Homo sapiens: one gene and its partner. Each later gene encodes a partner of the first gene's protein in a complex. Each region holds a gene or a part of one and is shown on either strand. Other genes may lie near its edges. The genes, in order: FMNL1 and CDC42. A codon is read from its position in the direction of its gene.

The links.
Region 2: the proteins of FMNL1 (region 1) and CDC42 are in contact, whole or in part, in a crystal structure (PDB 4YDH), measured with the Homo sapiens proteins. Residues at the interface, in NP_005883.3 of Homo sapiens: Cys45 (codon at 7,326), Met46 (codon at 7,329), Asn47 (codon at 7,332), Leu48 (codon at 7,335), Pro49 (codon at 7,338), Lys52 (codon at 7,347), Leu56 (codon at 7,359), Tyr59 (codon at 7,368), Lys63 (codon at 7,380), Glu66 (codon at 7,389), Leu67 (codon at 7,392), Asp70 (codon at 7,401), Gln71 (codon at 7,404), Phe74, Tyr83, Arg122, Glu123, Glu125, Thr126, Ser127, Leu128, Arg129, Thr130, Asn131, His132, Ile133, Val136, His228, Met232, Arg235; in NP_001034891.1 of Homo sapiens: Val36, Phe37, Glu62, Asp63, Tyr64, Asp65, Arg66, Leu67, Arg68, Pro69, Leu70, Pro73, Lys94, Glu95, Lys96, Pro99, Glu100, His103, His104, Lys131, Asn132, Gln134.

What each region holds. Positions count from the first base shown.
Region 1 is NC_000017.11:45,223,282-45,233,339, forward strand, and holds part of FMNL1 (formin-like protein 1), read left to right. Parts: intron 1-7,322; coding exon 7,323-7,406; intron 7,407-9,085; coding exon 9,086-9,199; intron 9,200-9,942; coding exon 9,943-10,016; intron 10,017-10,058. UniProt on the Homo sapiens protein: May play a role in the control of cell motility and survival of macrophages. Plays a role in the regulation of cell morphology and cytoskeletal organization. Required in the cortical actin filament dynamics and cell shape.
Region 2 is NC_000001.11:22,083,709-22,090,806, forward strand, and holds part of CDC42 (cell division control protein 42 homolog isoform 1 precursor), read left to right. Parts: intron 1-2,730; coding exon 2,731-2,840; intron 2,841-2,960; coding exon 2,961-3,158; intron 3,159-6,234; coding exon of another isoform or gene 6,235-6,324; exon of another isoform or gene 6,325-7,098. UniProt on the Homo sapiens protein: Plasma membrane-associated small GTPase which cycles between an active GTP-bound and an inactive GDP-bound state. In active state binds to a variety of effector proteins to regulate cellular responses. Involved in epithelial cell polarization processes.

The DNA of each region.
Region 1 (10,058 bases):
AGACACAGGCCGCAGAGGGTTCTGGCTCAGTTGGTGGCCCTCCATCTCCTTGACATCATTTCCCCTCGCCTGGCTGGTCATTAGGCCATACGTGCTAGATCCTCAGCATGGCTCCAGAGGGTCACCTCCTAACAGTTCCTGAAAATGTTGGCTTCTGTCCTCTCCCAAGAGAAGGCTGGGGGGAGTTTGGAGGAGCTATGGGGTGGCGAGGGATCCATCCTTGTGAAGACACCTTGCTTGATTAGAGGAGGGCAGGGACACTGAGGGACGCCTCACACCAGGCTGGCCCCTGACTTCTCCATCTCTCCACCTGCCCTGCTCCCCGCTCCCCAAGCATAGGACTTCACAAAGCTGAGCTGAGCTGAGCAGATGGGGGAGGGGGGAGAATGAGGAGACACAGTCTCTGGGGGCCATCTGGAGAGCCTGCATTGGTGGTGGGTCCTTGGACCCCTGCCAACCTGGTTGGAGGGACATGGGTCTGTCTTTCCGCCAAGTGTGTGTCTATGGTCGCGGGTGTGGGCTCTTGGGGTGAGGTCCTGACCCCAATCTTCTGTTTAGCACGCTGATGGGGAGGAGCCCTGTGAATAATTCAGACCAGGGGAAAATCCACAAGTCAAATGGTGAGGTTCTGATGTGTGTGTAGGACTTGTTTGCCCTGCTTGGATTTGTGGCTGTGATTGGCTGAGTCTGACACTAAATGCCACTGGGAGTCCCTGAGTACCAGGATGTGGAGGGGGGACACCCACAGGTGGGTCAGAGAGGGTGTGCTGGTGGAGAAAGTGGAGGTGCCTAGCAGAAATTTAGGGTAGCAGCACCCACCAGGGCTTACCCCCTACCAGGTGCCCAGGAACCCCAGTGTGTTTATACCTTCTTCCCGGGGTGGCTCAGCCTGTCTTATATCCTGTTGTGGGCAGGTTAAACCCAATCTAAGGACACTTGGCTAAGACCCTGGTTCCTCTCATTCCCCACCAGCAGGGGCATGAGGCTTGCCCCAGGGTGACAACCTTGACCTCTGCCTGAGGCTGCCCAGGGCTAAAGAGTTGGTTCAACCCTCAGGTCTGGCAGTGTGTATCGCAGAGTTGGTCGCTATGTGAACCCCCACCCGAACCACCATGGCCAGAGCTGAGTCCTGTCCTCGGTCAGTGTCTAAGAGGAGAAGAACCTTAGATTGCTGAGGGGAGGGGCCCACCGCCATCAGTGGTCCCCAGTCTCAATGGGAGAAGCACAGTCCTGCCCTCAGGGATGTAGTCCAGCGGCCCCAGGGAACCTCTTCCTTCCCCTTTTGTCCCTGGTGGGGCATAGGATCCTGATACCCCAAACTCTCCTTCCTCTCCTGGCTGTAGGACCTCTCTTGTGGGTGAGGGGTGTCCCCACTTACAGCCAGACAGGAGGTGCAGGGAGCCCTTCTCCCATGCAAGGGTGGGTGGTGGGGGGCTACCTTTCCAAGAAAGCTGTGAAAGAAAGGGGTGCCCCCTGCTTAAAATGGGGGTGGAGAGAAAGAGCAGGTTGAGCCAGGGTTTCCGGCTGCTGCCTTAGCAACAGCAGAGGAGCGATGGCTGCCCAGCCCCACGGGCCTGCTGTGATGGTGGGAACACCAGCCAGCGGGGCGCCAAGCTCTCGCCTCTCCTACGCCCATGCCCAAGGCTGGGTGTCTTCCAGCCCCTTCATGCCTTCCCCTGGGAGGCACGCAGGGTCAGGGACTGGGATGACAAGGCGACCTTTCCAGGCCTGCCAGAAGAGCCACACTTACACCTGGGCCTGGGACACCCCTGATCTGCCGGGCAGGGAGAATCCCATAACCTTGGGGCAGAGGGATCAAGGGAAGGTGTCAGGGGTGGTGTACGTGAGGCCAAAAGCCATGCTGGCATCCAGTAGCAGTGGAGAGGAATTTGCCTGATGGGTGCTCTTGGCTTGTGCCCAGAGGCCTGGGTGCCTGGCCAGGCTGTGTGGGGAGGTCAGGATGGCCCCATGTTGGGTGTGGGCCTGGAGTCCTGCTTGCAGCTGGGGCCCTTCCCTTCTGGGGCTGGCAGTAAAGGGCAGGAGGGACTGCAACTGAGGCACTGCCCCCTGGCCACTCCCACCTCCGGGACAGGGCAGATGAAGTGTGGGGACCTGGAGCCATGGGGTCGCTCAGGCCTTATGCCTGCCATTTGCAGGACAGAGGATCTCCGGGGGGATGTGGCCATGTGGTCTGATGTTGGGCTGGGCAGAGGGGAGGGGTGACATTCCCAGCAGGCAGGGCTGGCACATACTAACCCTGGAAAGCCACGGATGTGGTGGGCATGATTCACAGTGACATCTGGGGCTGACTGGCAGAGAGCTGGGTGAGACGGGTAGAAGCAGGTGCTCTCAGGGCTACCTCTGCCTTTTTCCTGGGAACATGGAGCCCTGGAAGGTGGCTTGGGGGGCCTTTGAGGGGACAGGGGTTACTTATGGGAAAGGCAGGGACGTTTCCTGAGCTTTGGGGTCATGATGTTTGGGGGTTGAGATTCATTTTTGTCACTACCTGCATGGCCCTGGACAAGTTACTTAACTTCTCTGAGCTGTAGTTTCCCTCACCTGTAAAAAGAGAATAATAATGGCATCTGCTGGCCTCCTAGGATTGTCGAGAGGGTGAAATAGAGGACTTCGCACAGTGCCTGACACAGAGCAGATGCTCAGTAACCCCCCTCCACTGTGAGAAAGGGGATAAAGCTGGAGCTGATCTGGTCCTCTCCATCTCAGGGCCCATTTAGCGGAGGGAGCCCAGACCCTGCCTGTCCCCTCCCTCCACCTCCACTACCAAGAGCACCCAAGGTTACTGTGCACTCCCCAGGAGCCCCAGATCCTTAGCTAGTGAGGGCCAGGCAACCTCCCCACCGTTATGCAGGTCACCAGCAGTGGGGCCCAGACCGAAAACTGCCTGGTGGCCGGAAACCGCTGGAGGGAGGGCCTACCTCTCCTGGAGGGTGGGGCAGCGATGGTGCTAACGGTAGCAGTGTGCACATGGGAGGGGGAGGGGAGGCCTCCACTTCCCCCTGAGAGAGGGTGTGCTGGTGGGGGGGTTCCCCAGTGAGTAAGAGCTCTGTGTGGGCAACAACAGGAAGCGTGGGGCGCTGGGTGGCAGGAAGTGGAGCTGGCTGTTCCTGGTTCCTCAGATGGGGGATCTGGGCCAGGCTGTCTGCAGAAGACCCCTGGGGGCCAGGACCCACATTTCCCATTCCCCGGCTGCTCCTTCTTTGGAGGAAGCCGGGTCTTCCTTGCTAGCTTGCCACCGAGGCCACCCTGGGCAAGCACCTTAACCTCCTTGAGTCTCAGTTTCCCATTTGTGAAATAGGGATTATAACAGTATCTATTTTGTAGGCTTGTTGAGGTTTAAATGAGTTTTGATGTAAAGTGCTTAGAACGGCACCTAGCACCCAGTGTTTGGGATTGAGAGATTAATTCTGAGTGAAAAAAAGTGTCTGGGGAGCGTTTGTTATTGTTACTGTTGTCGGTGTTGTTTTCCTCCTACCAGCCTGGATGATATAGGTAGTGGCTTCCACCCTGCTTGCCCTTGTCCCAGCTGTGGGGACCCTTGAACTCTGATGGGAGAAGCTGTTAGCTCTTTGGGTCCTCAGCACCTGATCCTGGGGCTGGGTCTCCTCATAGATCTCCTGTAAGCCTGGAATTGCTTATAAGAGCCCCAGAAAATCTATATGCCAAAGTTTAAAAAAGGAGGTAAAATTGATTGTGTTTGGATATGTGCCGAGAACACTACAACTAAGGTTGAGACCATATAGAGGTGGGCAGGTGGCAGGGAGATGGATGGGGGAGTGGGGGCTGGGGGACAGGCTCAGCTTCTGGGCCCATCGGGCTGAGGAAAGCCTGTGGGGCTGGCCTGAGACTGGGATTGATGTCCAAGTTCAGGGGTACCCTGGGGCTTGAAGGGCTAGGCCATAGGGAGAGATGGGCAGGTGGACTGAGACGTAGGCTCCGCTCAAACTGAAAGTGAAACCCTAGGGTGTGGCTGTGTCCAGATGTGGACGCAGCCCCTTCAGCCTCCTGGGACACTGTCTCAGAAGTAAGCACTGGTGTGGGGGAGGTGGGGGAAGGGCTCTTAGCAGTGTCTTTTGGGGGCTGGTCTTAGGTGAGCAGATGCTGGGGGTCCCCTCTCACACTCAGGGCAGGGAGGGAGGAGAATGGTCCCCACACATTCTAATAGAAAGATGTGGGGAATCAGTTCCTTTTCTCGGCCACACCCTAAAAGATGAATCCTGTCTCTTTCCTCATCTGGCCCAAAGCACTAAAGGCAGCAGGGAAAGTAGGCTGAGGCTAGTTAAGGTTTGGCCAAAGCCTTGGAGACAAGTCTGTGTTTCTGGATGTTTTCACAAACTTCTGCTCACCCTACCATCCCCTACCCTGGGGTCTTCCATGGACCCCTGCCCCTCCACCTCTTCTGCCTCTGTGAAGTGCTTCTTCATAGTGTTAGGCCACTGAAGAGCTTTGTTAAATCCAAACTCAGCTTCTCACTGAGTGTTCCAGGAGCTCCGTGAGTGTGAGGCTCCGGTGAGGGAGTGCGCCCATTTTATGGAGGAGGAAGCTGAGGTCCAAGGGGGCAAAGAAGCTGTAGGGCTAGTTGGGCCCAGAGCCTGGGTCTTTTGAAGCCAGCTCCAGGTCCTCCATGTGGCAGCTCATAGCTGTCCCTCCCTGCCCCCCTCAGGAGGCAGGTATCCCGCCCACCTGGACTGCCAGCCCCTCCCCTCCTACTTGAGCACTGTCAGCCAACTCTCCGTGTGTCCCCCAGCCCCCCATCCCATGGTGCTGCTGCCTCGCTGAAGGCCCTGGTCTGGGGGTCTGTTCCTGTTTTCAGGGTGGCCTCACTCCACCCCGAGTGAGTGGCATCTGATGGCCCCTCTCCTACTCCCTGGAGTGCCTGGCTCCTCGGTGGGCACAGCCACAGCTGAGGAGCAGCTGCTAATTAGTGTTCGGCGCTGTCAGAGCTATTTCTGATTTCTGAGCCTAAATTTAGCCTGTCTGGCAGGCTGGCATGTGGGCCTGGGGGCCTGAGAAGGCCCAGGTGGGGAAGGGGCATGGGCACCCTGCCCTCCACCACTGTTCAGACAGGTGCTCCAGGCCCCAGCAGAGGCCTCCCCTCGGCAGTAACAACCAGGGGGCTGTCCTGGGGGAGTGGACCCAGGTGGTGGCTCAGAGTCAGCTCCAGGCTCAAAGCCAGCCCAGCTCTCCTCTTACTGGCTTCGTAACCTTGGGCAGGTCACTAAACTAATCTGTGCCTGCACCTGTGAGGTGGGAATGTTAACGGTGCCAGTGACGGCAGTGAGGGTGGAAGGCAGTCGTCGGCGCGCAGGGCTCGGAGCAGTGCCTTGCACAGTAGGCATTCTGGTGGAGCTGGCCACCTGACTGTTGGAGATGTCATTATGACTAGTTACTGCCCCTAGAAATGCCGCTGGGGCCATTCCAGAACCATAAAGTTCCCTGGGTGGGTGAGGGCCTGGGAGGATTCATGTCGGGAAGCAGCTGTCCCCTCTGTGGCTCTGTGCTGGGCTCAGCCATCCCCTTACTCCCTGGCCACCGTCTTTTGTGCCGGCCACGGCTCCAGTTTCCCTGGCACTGCTGGCCCTGTCTCTCCTCTTTGTCCCTTTTCTCCACCTTGCTCCCACCTTAGCCCTGCCCCACCCTTTGTCTCTGTGGGGTGGGGGTGACTGAGAGACATCATCGAGAGAGACAGACAGATGGACAGGGACAGAGAGACAGAGAATGACCTCGCCTCCTTTGTACTCCTGGGCGGTTCCCCCACCCCCTGCCCCTGTGGTAGCAGGAGCTGTCCTGGCCCTTGGAGGGCTGGGGGAGGGCGGCTGATGAGACAGCGGTGGTTTCCTCAATCCAGGCTCACTTTCGCAATAGGGGAGAGGAATGACGTATTCCACCCCCTTCAGCCGCTGGGGGCGGGGGGCCTGGCGGAGGGGCAGTTTCACCTCTCCAGCAGGGCCTGGCCGGAAAGCTTAGGCAATGGAGGCTGAGCGCACCCAGCTTCCTGTTGTCTGGGCCTGACCCAAGGCAGTGATTTTGGGGGTAAGGTCTGGCTGGAGCCCCAGAACTAGGCCCAGCACCCTGGAGGGGAAGCTGGCTGGGGAGTCTCAGGTGGGTGTGGCCCTCTGACTGCTCCAGCTGTGGCGTCTCTGCAGAGCCACATGACTGAGGGTGTGGAGCGTGAACCACCATGGCTGGTGAGCCCCTCAGGGTCTCCCACATCCCCGATGGAGACTCTTACTCAACTCAGATCTCCTTGAGGGCAGGAACTGTCTTTTTGGGCCAGACATATAGAAGGCTCTCAATAACCTGGGGTTTACTAAATTGAAGGGAACTGGCCTCATCTTTTGGGTCTGTCAGGGAGACAAGCCAAGTCTGGGGGTCCAGAAAGCCCCTGGTGCTATTGACACCTGGTTGATTCGGCAGCCCTGGGCTGGCGCTAACCTGCTCCGTGGTGGCAGGGGCACCGTACCCTTGTCATCTGTGGCCAGGGGAGGAGGACCCAGGCAGAGCTCTGTTGACCTTTCTCAGCTCCTGGGGGAGTCCCAGCTGGGCGGCCCCCACCACAGACCCAGGGCACTGGCTCTTCTCCCCAGTGCTGTGGCCGAGTGACCTTCCCCGCAAATCTCCCCGCCCCTGCAGCTGTGATCTGGAACTCCCTGCCTGCTGACATGGCCGCCCTCAGCTCCCCCAGCCCTCTCCTTCCTTTCTCAGCCTTCTCCTCCAAGTGGGAGGGGGCTGGAGAGGGATGAGGAGAAGGCTGCTGTCCACTCTCCTTGCAAGAGATTTCCTGGTGTTCGTGAGGCACTGGTGCCCTGGGCCTGGTCTGTGTACACGTGGGATCTGGTGGCACGTGGAGGTGGGACACTGGCCACTGGCCACTGGCCACACTTTGGCCTGACTGGTGATGGCTCCCCTGTTAGCTTCCCACCAGAATGGGGGAAGAGATGATGCCCCAACAGGAAAACTGGGGCCCAGAAGTGTCTCAGGTCCCCAGAGAGGTAGGCTGACAACCCACGCTCCTGCCTGCACACCAGGCAGGCCAGGGAGGCGGTGTGGGGGGTGACACAGCGCAGGCAGACTCGGATTCAAATCCTGCTCTCCCTTCTAGCTGGTGTGCCCCGGGAAAGGTGCTCTGTCTCTCTTGGCCTTGGTCTTCTCATTGGATAACACTACGTATCTCCTAGGGTCAGAGGATTCATGGGGGTGATGCACCTCCTAGGGAGCCAAGTGGGTTTCCCCCAAATGCCCATTCTCCCCTCTCCCCTTGTTGGGGCCCCAGGCTCAGGGGTCTTTGTCCTCCCTGTCCCCAGAACTGCATGAACTTGCCCCCAGACAAGGTCCAGCTGCTGAGCCAGTATGACAACGAGAAGAAGTGGGAGCTCATCTGTGATCAGGTAGGTGCCAGCACTGCCCAGCCACCCCTTCCCTCCCACTGTCAGTACCCCACCCTGACCAGGCTGGGGCTATGGGGAGAGGGGCACCGCCATACTGCCCATGGAGCCAAGACTCTGCTCAGTGGCCAATGTAGCACCTGGGGAGGGTGCTGGGGTCTGCAGGACTCCCAAATCCCTTTCTCTTGAACTCCCCAAAAGACCTTGTGAGTCACTAGCAGGGCTGGGTCAGCTTCAGAGGAGCTGGCAGAGCTGGTTCAGGCTGGGGCAGCTGGGGCCTCGCACTGTCACTGTCCTCCTGCTGAGCTTCCTGAGAAACCTCTCTGGACTGGGGAAGGGAGAGGGCGACCCTGGGGTTGGACATCTTCACCTGACCCCATGGGAGGGAGGGAGGAAGGGGCGGGAATTCCTGCCCTTTTGCCTTGGGTCCAGAGGAGCTGCAGTTGACCAGCAACTCCCCAAGGCCAGCCACTTTGGACCCCTGCTTTGGTGCTCCGTCCAGGTGCCTGGACTCACGGGTCACTCAGCTGTCCCCACCCCTCCAGCTTCAAGGGCTGCGGTCGGCCATGGGCCGACCCTCTCCCAGCGCTGGGCTGGGTGGGGCTCGGCTGCCGCAGGGATTCTGTGAAGGAGGGAGGCTGCAGAGGCTGGGGGTGGGGAGTTGGGAGCTGAGAGCCTCCCCTGGGAGCCAAGGCTGGGCCTTTGCCTCCTGCTAATGAAGCAGATGGCCTGAGCCGGCTGGGCAGCAGTCCAGGGGTAAGGGCTGGGAAGTGGGAAGAGGGTGGAGAGCTGCCCCTGGAGTCTCTGGTAGGGGTCCCCTTGGAGCAGCTCAGCCTGACATCTCAGAGGTTGGGGGCTCAAAGGGCTGGAAGAAGTGAAAGTCTGAGGGGTGGCTCGGCGAATCTGAGGGGTTTGGGTTGGAAGGGTGGGGGCCCCTCTGGGGAGGGGTCTTTGCCGTGGTCCCTGCCTCTTTGTGTGAGTGGCCGCTGGAGCCTGCAGTGGGGTGGGGGGATTAGGAATTGCATCACTGAGCACAGGAGAGGAGCACGCAGGTTCCTGCCAACGCAGATGTGCAGGGCGGCTGGGTCCGAGTCCTACCCAGGTGCTGGGTCCCCTTCACGAGGCACCTCCAGCCGTCCTTCCCCGCCGTATGCCAGCTCTGGTCCAGGGAGGGCACCACCTGCTGGCTAGACTGAGTTCCTTCCCACCCCAGGGCGGGGCCTACGGCAGGACTGACCCCTGCATAGTCCACCCCAAAGCTGTGTCAGGGCTGTGGCCTGGGAGCCCATACAGGAAGGGCAGGCTAGGCCTAGGCCAGGGGTTTTTAAAGTGGCCCGATGCTAGCTGGGCGTGGTGGTGCACACCCGTAGTCCCAGCTACCTGGGAGGCTGAGGTAGGAGGATCGCTTGAGCCCGGGAGTAGGAGGCTCCAGTGAACTATGTTCGTGCCACAGCACTCCAGCCTGGGCCACAGGGCAAGAAAAGAGAAAGATAAAAGAAAAGAAAAAAAAAGAAAGTGGCTTGGTGGACTGTTTGGGTTTATACCTTTGGTATTTCAGAGGCGTCTTAAGAAAGCCTGGGACCTCAGATCGGAGCTGAGAATGGGACACTGGGACGAGAACTGGTCATTTGCCCTGGGGTAGCTCTGGCTGGTTTTCTGTACACCCCATTCCATCTCCCCAGGAGCGGTTTCAAGTCAAGAATCCCCCCGCAGCCTACATCCAGAAGCTGAAGAGCTATGTGGATACTGGTGGGGTCAGCCGAAAGGTAGCAGCTGATTGGATGTCCAACCTGGGGGTACATGTCTCCCCTCTTTACTCTGTCCCTTTCCCCCACATTTTCCAAGCTCTGGGCAGCTGGAGTAACTGTGTGTACAGACTTTTCTATGTGCGTGTGTGGGTGCATGTATGAGTGTGTGTGTGTGTTTGTGTGTCTGTGTATTTATAGGGGAATGAGAGTGCCCTGGGTGTGCACTTTAGATATTCCTCTGTACATCCTGTGTGTGCTTACATGGACACATTCTGTGTACTTATACTGTGTGTATACACATGTGCAGCCCATATGTCCATACATAGGTGTGTGTGTATACTATGTGTGTACTTTGTCCACTTATGGATGTGTGTGTGTACCATTGAGTCCATATCTAGGAGAGAGAGAGAATGTGTGTGTGTGTGTGTCCATGTATGGATGTGTGGATATTCTATGTCTGTATTTAGAGTGCAGGTATATGGATGTTCATGTGCTGTGTGTGTGTGTGCGCACACACACTCTGCCTCTTTGTGTGTGTGCATGTGTATACCTTGTGTGCCCATGTATCGGGGGTGTGTGTACCCTGCTTGTCTATGTATGGGGGAGCACATGTAGCCTGTGAGTTCTTATTCTGCTGGGCAGGTGTGTGGAGGTGGTGGGGGAGGCTGAGCATGAAAGGCCACTTGTGCCAGTTGGAGGAGGGTGGGCGCTGCTGCCTGCTGCCTCAGGACTTGGTGGGCCTGTGGGAGGCCGGGCTCCACCCACCAGCCTTCCCTGTTCTCGGTCCCCAGTTTAAGAGGCGAGTTCAGGAGTCCACGCAGGTGCTACGGGAGCTGGAGACCTCCCTGAGGACCAACCACATTGGGTGAGTGAGGGCTCAGATCTTCCTCTCTGGGCCTAGGAAGGC
Region 2 (7,098 bases), on another chromosome or scaffold:
TGAGTTCTTTTACCACTGAATGGTGTTGGCACCCTTATCAAAAATTATTTGACCATATATGTGAGTGTTTATTTCTGGGTTCCCTTTGCAGTCAGCCCTGTCCCTTGACCTGGTTCCAGGCAACCACTGATCTGCTTTCTTTGTTTCTACTGTTTTGCTTTTCTAGGGTTTCATATAAATGGAACCATACAATATGTAGTCTTTTGTGTGACTATTTTTACATAGCATAATGTTTGTGAGAGTTGTCCATGTTGTGTGTATTGGTAGTTGTTTCTTTTGATTGCCGAGTGTTATTCTGTTCTATGAATATATCACAGTTTTGTTTATCCATTAACAAGTTGATGGATGTTTGGGTTCCAGTTTTAATACTGGTGCTATGAATTGCTTCCACGTTTTAGCTATTTTGAATAATGTTGCTATCAACATGGGTATACAGATACCTTGTTGACACCCTGCTTTCAGTTCTTTTGGGGTATATACCCAGAAGTGGAATTGTTGGATCATGTTTTTAATTTTTTTGAGGAACCTCCGTATTGTTTTCCACAGTGGCTGTCCCATTTTATATTCCTACCAACAGTACGTGGGGTTTGATATAGTCACATTCTTCTGTTCGACACTTATTTCCTGTTTTTTTTTTTTTTTTTTTTTTTTTAATTGTAGCCATCCTAATTAGTGTGAGGTGGTATCTAATTGTGGTTTTGATTTGTATTTCCTTAATGATTAGTGATGTTGAGCATCTTATGGCCATTTATATATCTTTGGAGAAAGGTCTGTTTAATCAAGTTCTTTGCCCATTTTTGAATTGGGATTTTTTTTTTGGGGTAAGTTTTAGGAGTTCTTTGTAGATTCCGGGTATTAATCTCTTATCACATACACGATTTGCATATATTTTTTCCTATTTTGTGGGTTGCGTTTTTATTCTGTTGATACTATTTTCTGATGTATAAAATTTTCACAGCTTCATGAAGTTTGTCTATTTTTTGGTGGTTTGGTGTGATATCCAAACAAATTATTGCCAAGTCCACCTGAATCTTTTGCCCTATGTTTTCTGGGAGTTTTAAAGTTTTAGGTCTAACATTTAGACCTTTTATCCATTTTGAGTTAATTTTAGTATATAGTATTAGGTAAGGTTTCATCTTTGTCTTTTGCTTGTGAATATGTCATTTTCTCAGCACCATTTATTGAAGAGTCCTTTTACCACTGAATGGTCTTGGCACCCTTATCAAAAATTATTTGAGCTAGGCTAGGCACGGTGGCTCACACCTGTAATCTTAGCACTTTGGGAGGCTGAGGTGGGCAGATCACCTGAGGTCAGAAGTTTAAGACCAGCCTGGCCAACATGGTGAAACCCTGTGTCTACTAAAAATACAAAAATTAGCCTGGTGCGGTGGTGTGTGCCTATAGTCCCAGCTACTCAGAAGGTGGAGGCAGGAGAGTCTCTTGAACTGGGGAGGTGGAGGTTGCAGTGAGCCGAGATTGTGCCACTGCACTCCAGCCTGGGTGATAGAGTGAGACTCTGTCTAAAAAAAAAAAAAAAAAAGAAAAATCATTTGCCCACATATGTAAGGGTTTATTTCTGGGTTCTCTAGTCTATTCCATTGTCTTATATATCTCCCTATGCCAATACCGCACTGTTTTGATTATTGTAGCCTTGTAGTAAGTTTTGAAATCAGGAAATGGGAGTGCTTCAGCTTTATTCTTTTTCAAGATTATTTTGTCTATTGTCCCTTGTTTCAAGATTACTATCCCTTGTTGGGATTTTGATAGGGATTGCATTGAGTCTGTAGGTTGCTTTGGATAATGTTGACATGTCAACAATATTAAGTCTTCCAGTTCATGAATGTGGGATGTGTTTCCATTTATTTATGTCTTCTTTAATTTCTTTCAGCAGTTTTGAATTTTTTTGTTATCCAAGTCTTTTGCCTCTGATTAAGTTAATTCTAAGTATTTTTATTATTTTGAGTATCGATTAATTCTTGCTAAATTTGTTTTCTAGGCTTTATCAGTTTCAGATACCGGTCTTATATACACGCATTAACTAAATATGTGAACCTCTGTTTGTAGTCATGATGGGCAGTGGATTTTGTCATCTGGGTTTCAGTGAGGTTTTTCTTTCCTTAGATGATTTCACTGTGATTGTTTCTTTACCATATCTGAGATGGAGTCTCACTCTGTCACCCAGACTGGAGTACAGTGATGCCATCTCGGCTCACTGCAACCTCCGCCTTCTGGGTTCACGTGATTCTTCTGCCTCAGCCTTCCAAGTAGCTGGGATTACAGATGTGCACCACCACACCCGGCTAATTTTTATATTTTTAGTAGAGATGAGGCTTCATCATGTTGGCCAGGCTGGTCTTGAACTCCTGACCTCAGGTGATCCGCCTGTCTCGGCCTCCCAAAGTGCTGGGATTACAAGGATTGATTTTTAACCATTTCTGTAGCAAGAGTTTATTATTACATTTATTATTGGGTTTCTAATGGACACAAAGATTGAACACCACAAACTGGTAATAAAAGCAAATAACATAATAGTAAATTCATTGCTGTTCTGAGTGCTTGAAGTTTGTAGAATTAGCTGATTGAGAATATTGCCCACATATTATATTACAAAGCCATACATTTTATTAGATAAGTAAGTTGCTTTTTGAGTAATGACCAGCATGCTTTTAACACTTTGAGGACACCAAGATTCAGTTGCTGAATTCTCTCCAATATTTTTCTTTTTTCTAGGGCAAGAGGATTATGACAGATTACGACCGCTGAGTTATCCACAAACAGATGTATTTCTAGTCTGTTTTTCAGTGGTCTCTCCATCTTCATTTGAAAACGTGAAAGAAAAGGTAAGCTGATCAGATACTCTTGCCCTAAGAAGATCATCTCAGAATTTCTACTGACCTGTTATAAATAGCATTAGAGGCTTGTTGATTAACAAAGGTGTATTTTAAAATACCTTTTTTTAGTGGGTGCCTGAGATAACTCACCACTGTCCAAAGACTCCTTTCTTGCTTGTTGGGACTCAAATTGATCTCAGAGATGACCCCTCTACTATTGAGAAACTTGCCAAGAACAAACAGAAGCCTATCACTCCAGAGACTGCTGAAAAGCTGGCCCGTGACCTGAAGGCTGTCAAGTATGTGGAGTGTTCTGCACTTACACAGGTAAGAATGGCATGAAACCCCATGTGTATTTATGGTCGAGTCATTTATTAGAGCATTAGGATACAGGAGTTATTTCTAACAGTGATCAGCAGTGCTCAAAGATGCCCAGCAAGAATATGAACAGCTTCATATTGTATGTTCTTTTGTTAGAGGCCTCTGTGTTTTTTGGAGAATATTATTAGTTCCTAAACCCCTTGTGTTGGTAAGCTCTCGTATTGTACTGAATGATTCGTAGTGGTCAGGGTTGTGTTAAAACAAAAACCTTACAGGAAAGGTTCAGATAAGCATAAACTTGCAAGAGACGATGTGAATGATTTTTTTTTTTTCTAAACACTTAAATTTTCATCTGAATATGTCTGATCTTTTCTTGCCAATTCTGACAATTGATACTATACTGTTTCTTGGGCAATTCAACCAGGATAGGGAATTAGTCATAATAATTGAGACTTTAATGTCAAAGAAGGCAGCCATGGCTATTTCTGCCACAGTTCTCAAGCGTGCTTTATATAGTGTCCCTATTCCTATATTTTTGGAAGTATTCCTTCCTCATGCATTCCGGCCGTTTTTGAGTGATTTAATTGGAACTCCTTTTGTAGTTTGATGGGAAACTCAGATTTTGAAGATAGGGAGCAATGTTAGGGTATTTGGAATGGGACTTGTAACTGATGTGTATGGTTTAAACTTTTTCACCTTCATGATATCGCTGATTCCGTCCTTTGAGTACTGTTCTGGGGGCAAAGGAAAAGGTTATGGAAATAATTAGCACAAAAGTTTTATGTTCTACTGGTACTGGTGCTTTGAAGTTTGAACACTGAGCAGACATGCCTAATAGGGCAAGATTGAAGGGTGGAGGTTTCTAATAATTATATTAAACTCATTATATTTATGCTTATGTTTTCAGGTAATTCATTCATTTTTATTGTGTTTCTAAAAAACACTATTGGATTCTTAACTACGTGTATACTAGGGTAAATGGCATATATGATTACTTATTACATATGCACTAGGTATTTAGTTTATAGGGCCTAGTGCATAATTTAATAGTAAGTTTAGTACTTGGTTGGATATTTACAGATAAAACTTTTATGCTTAACTGGGATATCCCTCAAAATAACTTCGAGGCCTAGTATCAGATGATTTAAACATAATCTTCTAATCCTCGTTTTTTTGGGCAGTTTAGTGCTATTATAGAAGCAGTTATTTAAAAGTTTAGAAGATTTTACACCTTCTCATGCATAGCAACTGTTTTGAGAGTTTTAAAAAATGCCTGGTGCTTCTCTGTGTGTTTTAGTAACATTCCCAGAAAAGTGTGCCTGTGTGTGTATATTGGGGGAGACAAGGGAAAGTCATGTGTGAAACACTCATGTCCATGTTAGACACTAATTCTGTGTGCTTCTGATGCATACCTCTGTTCTCTAGATATGGGTTGCTTTGAGGGAAGACACATAGGCCCTGTGGATTCACTTTTAGGTTACTAGTGATGCTTTAGATAATTGGATGCTTTTAATGTAAGATTTTTACAGTATCAACAGGTGTATATAGTAAATCCGTTTGTAGAGAGTATGAAGTTTAAAAGGTCTTAGCAGGTACATTTTTCTTACCAGAGTTTGAAGTATGGAGAAGTCAAAAGAGGGGAAGTTAGAAAATGGGGTCTGTGGTTGTGTTTGGGAGCTAGAACTTTGAGGCTTACAGATTCTGTTTGTTGATTCCTCTAAAACTAAAGTCTTAATATAAACAGATGGTGGTCAAGCAAAGATTAGTTTTGTTTCATAGAGCATTTGTTGATCTTCGTCCATGGTAAGCAAGAAAGGAATTCCTTCTTGTTAAGGGATACACTCCAGTTTCTAATAGTCCTCCTCCTCTTTTTTTCCTTATAAAGTATATTTCCCTTTCTGTACTCCTTCCTTCCTTTTATATTTTACTGCCAGAGTTGGTTCCTAGATGTGCAGAAAGAATTGCAGTGGAATTTTAACTTTTATGTGGCATTTCTACTTTGTAAATGATGTAGAAAGAGGAAGGCTTTTTAACTTTTGCTGCTTTTAAAGAATTTACTGCTGTTTCTGATTTATTTTGTGTCTAATGTGACATGTGGGTACCAGTCCTGTGGGATGTCATGGATGGGGGCAGGGTGGAGGTGGGAACACTTGGGGTGGTCTGGGGTTGGCACTTACAATTGGAGCTGTGTTCTGGGACTTTTAGGACATATTTACTTGGGATCAAACTGATCAAACTAAAGAACATGTGAAACAACCTTGGGTGGTAAACTTGTGGCTTCAGATTTAGGTGATTTTAGGTGAGTCTGTAGACCTGGGTCCTAAGTACCACCAATGCTGAGTCACACTGTCATGTTGGAGTTTCTGGCTGAGGTGTAAGTGTATTTCTGTATCTTAATCCCCGTAAGATCTGAGAATATTCTTCGTTTTCACTCCATGCTTTATGCTCTGATACCCATGCAGACATCTTAAAGCACTGGACTGCTTGCTAAAACTCATTCTAGGACCCCATTCTTTGTTTTCTTATGACTTGGGTGGTGGTTACTTGCTCTAATAACATTGCTGAATAACTGAAGTGTATGCTGTTTTTAGAGTCTGTTCTTTAAAGTCCTTCTAGTTGGTACTGTTGCACAATTAACACTTTTTAAATGTCTGAACCTTTCCGTTCTGGGAAACCAGTTTACTCTGAAATCTTGATTAATCACATTCAGATATGTCATTGAACCTAGAAACACATAGCATGCCTGTTAGTCTGCTATTTGTGTCCTTCAGTTATTCAGGGGCTGAATTCACATAAGCCTGAAATTGTAATAGATTTATTTCCAAAATGTGTTAGAAGTCAACATATTGCATTTTAATAAAAATTGCTTTCCTGCTCAGTTAACCTTGCTTGAGGTGAAGTTTTTGGTCAGTTATCTACTCTCCTGGTTATAATGGGCTTAAGATCTAGCATTCTAGCGTTTTTCTTAAGGCACATTGCTTCTGTGAATTCAGCTCATTTAATCCGGACTGCTGTTGTACCTGCTAGTCTTTCTAATCCTCTAACCTGGCTGCTATTCTCTCTCCTCCCCTCTGTCTTGTAGAGAGGTCTGAAGAATGTGTTTGATGAGGCTATCCTAGCTGCCCTCGAGCCTCCGGAAACTCAACCCAAAAGGAAGTGCTGTATATTCTAAACTGTTTTCTCCTTCCCTTCTTTGCTGCTGCTTCCTGTCCCACTACTGTAGAAAGATCGTTTAAAAACAAAGGAATAAAACCATCCTGTTTGAAAGCCTCTGCGTCTTTTTACTCACCACCTTAGAGCAACCTCTGTATTAGTTTTTGATCAAGAATGCAATATCATATAAATTTTTTGTGATCAGTAGTCAAGTTGGACTTGTTTTAACGTTCTGCTGCTTGAGTTGCCTGATGCTCAGAGCTTTTTGGTTTGGATTACTATTGCAAAAGGGAACTTGGTCTGGCTTTAAGAATGTCCTCTTGGAGAAAATAACAAGAGTTTTAACACTTCTAGATCTTAGTTCTAGATGGAGAAAGTAACACAAACATCATTTTACTCTTATGATCAATTGTTAATTGTAATTGCATGACAAACCTTATGGAAAAGGGGTGACCTAGTAGAGTGTAATGGGGAAGGGAGGATTCTTTTCTGGTTTTCCTTTGTGCGGTGAAACTTTGTGTTGCTGTTGCTTTGGCTGTCTGTGCTGTAGTGGAGTATTTGTCAGTCTGGGGTGGGGAAGATATTGATGTATCTGCTACTGCTTTATGAGTTCATTTGTTACATTATCTTTTAAGAATAACATCCATTTAAACAGTTGACTTACAGTTTGTTAATGCTGAGATGTAAAGCTGCCACCTTTATATTTTCCTGCTTCTGATTTTATTGTGAGGGAAATATACAATTGTGGTTACCTTCAAATTTTGAAATTAAAAATATACAACCGTTTGTATAA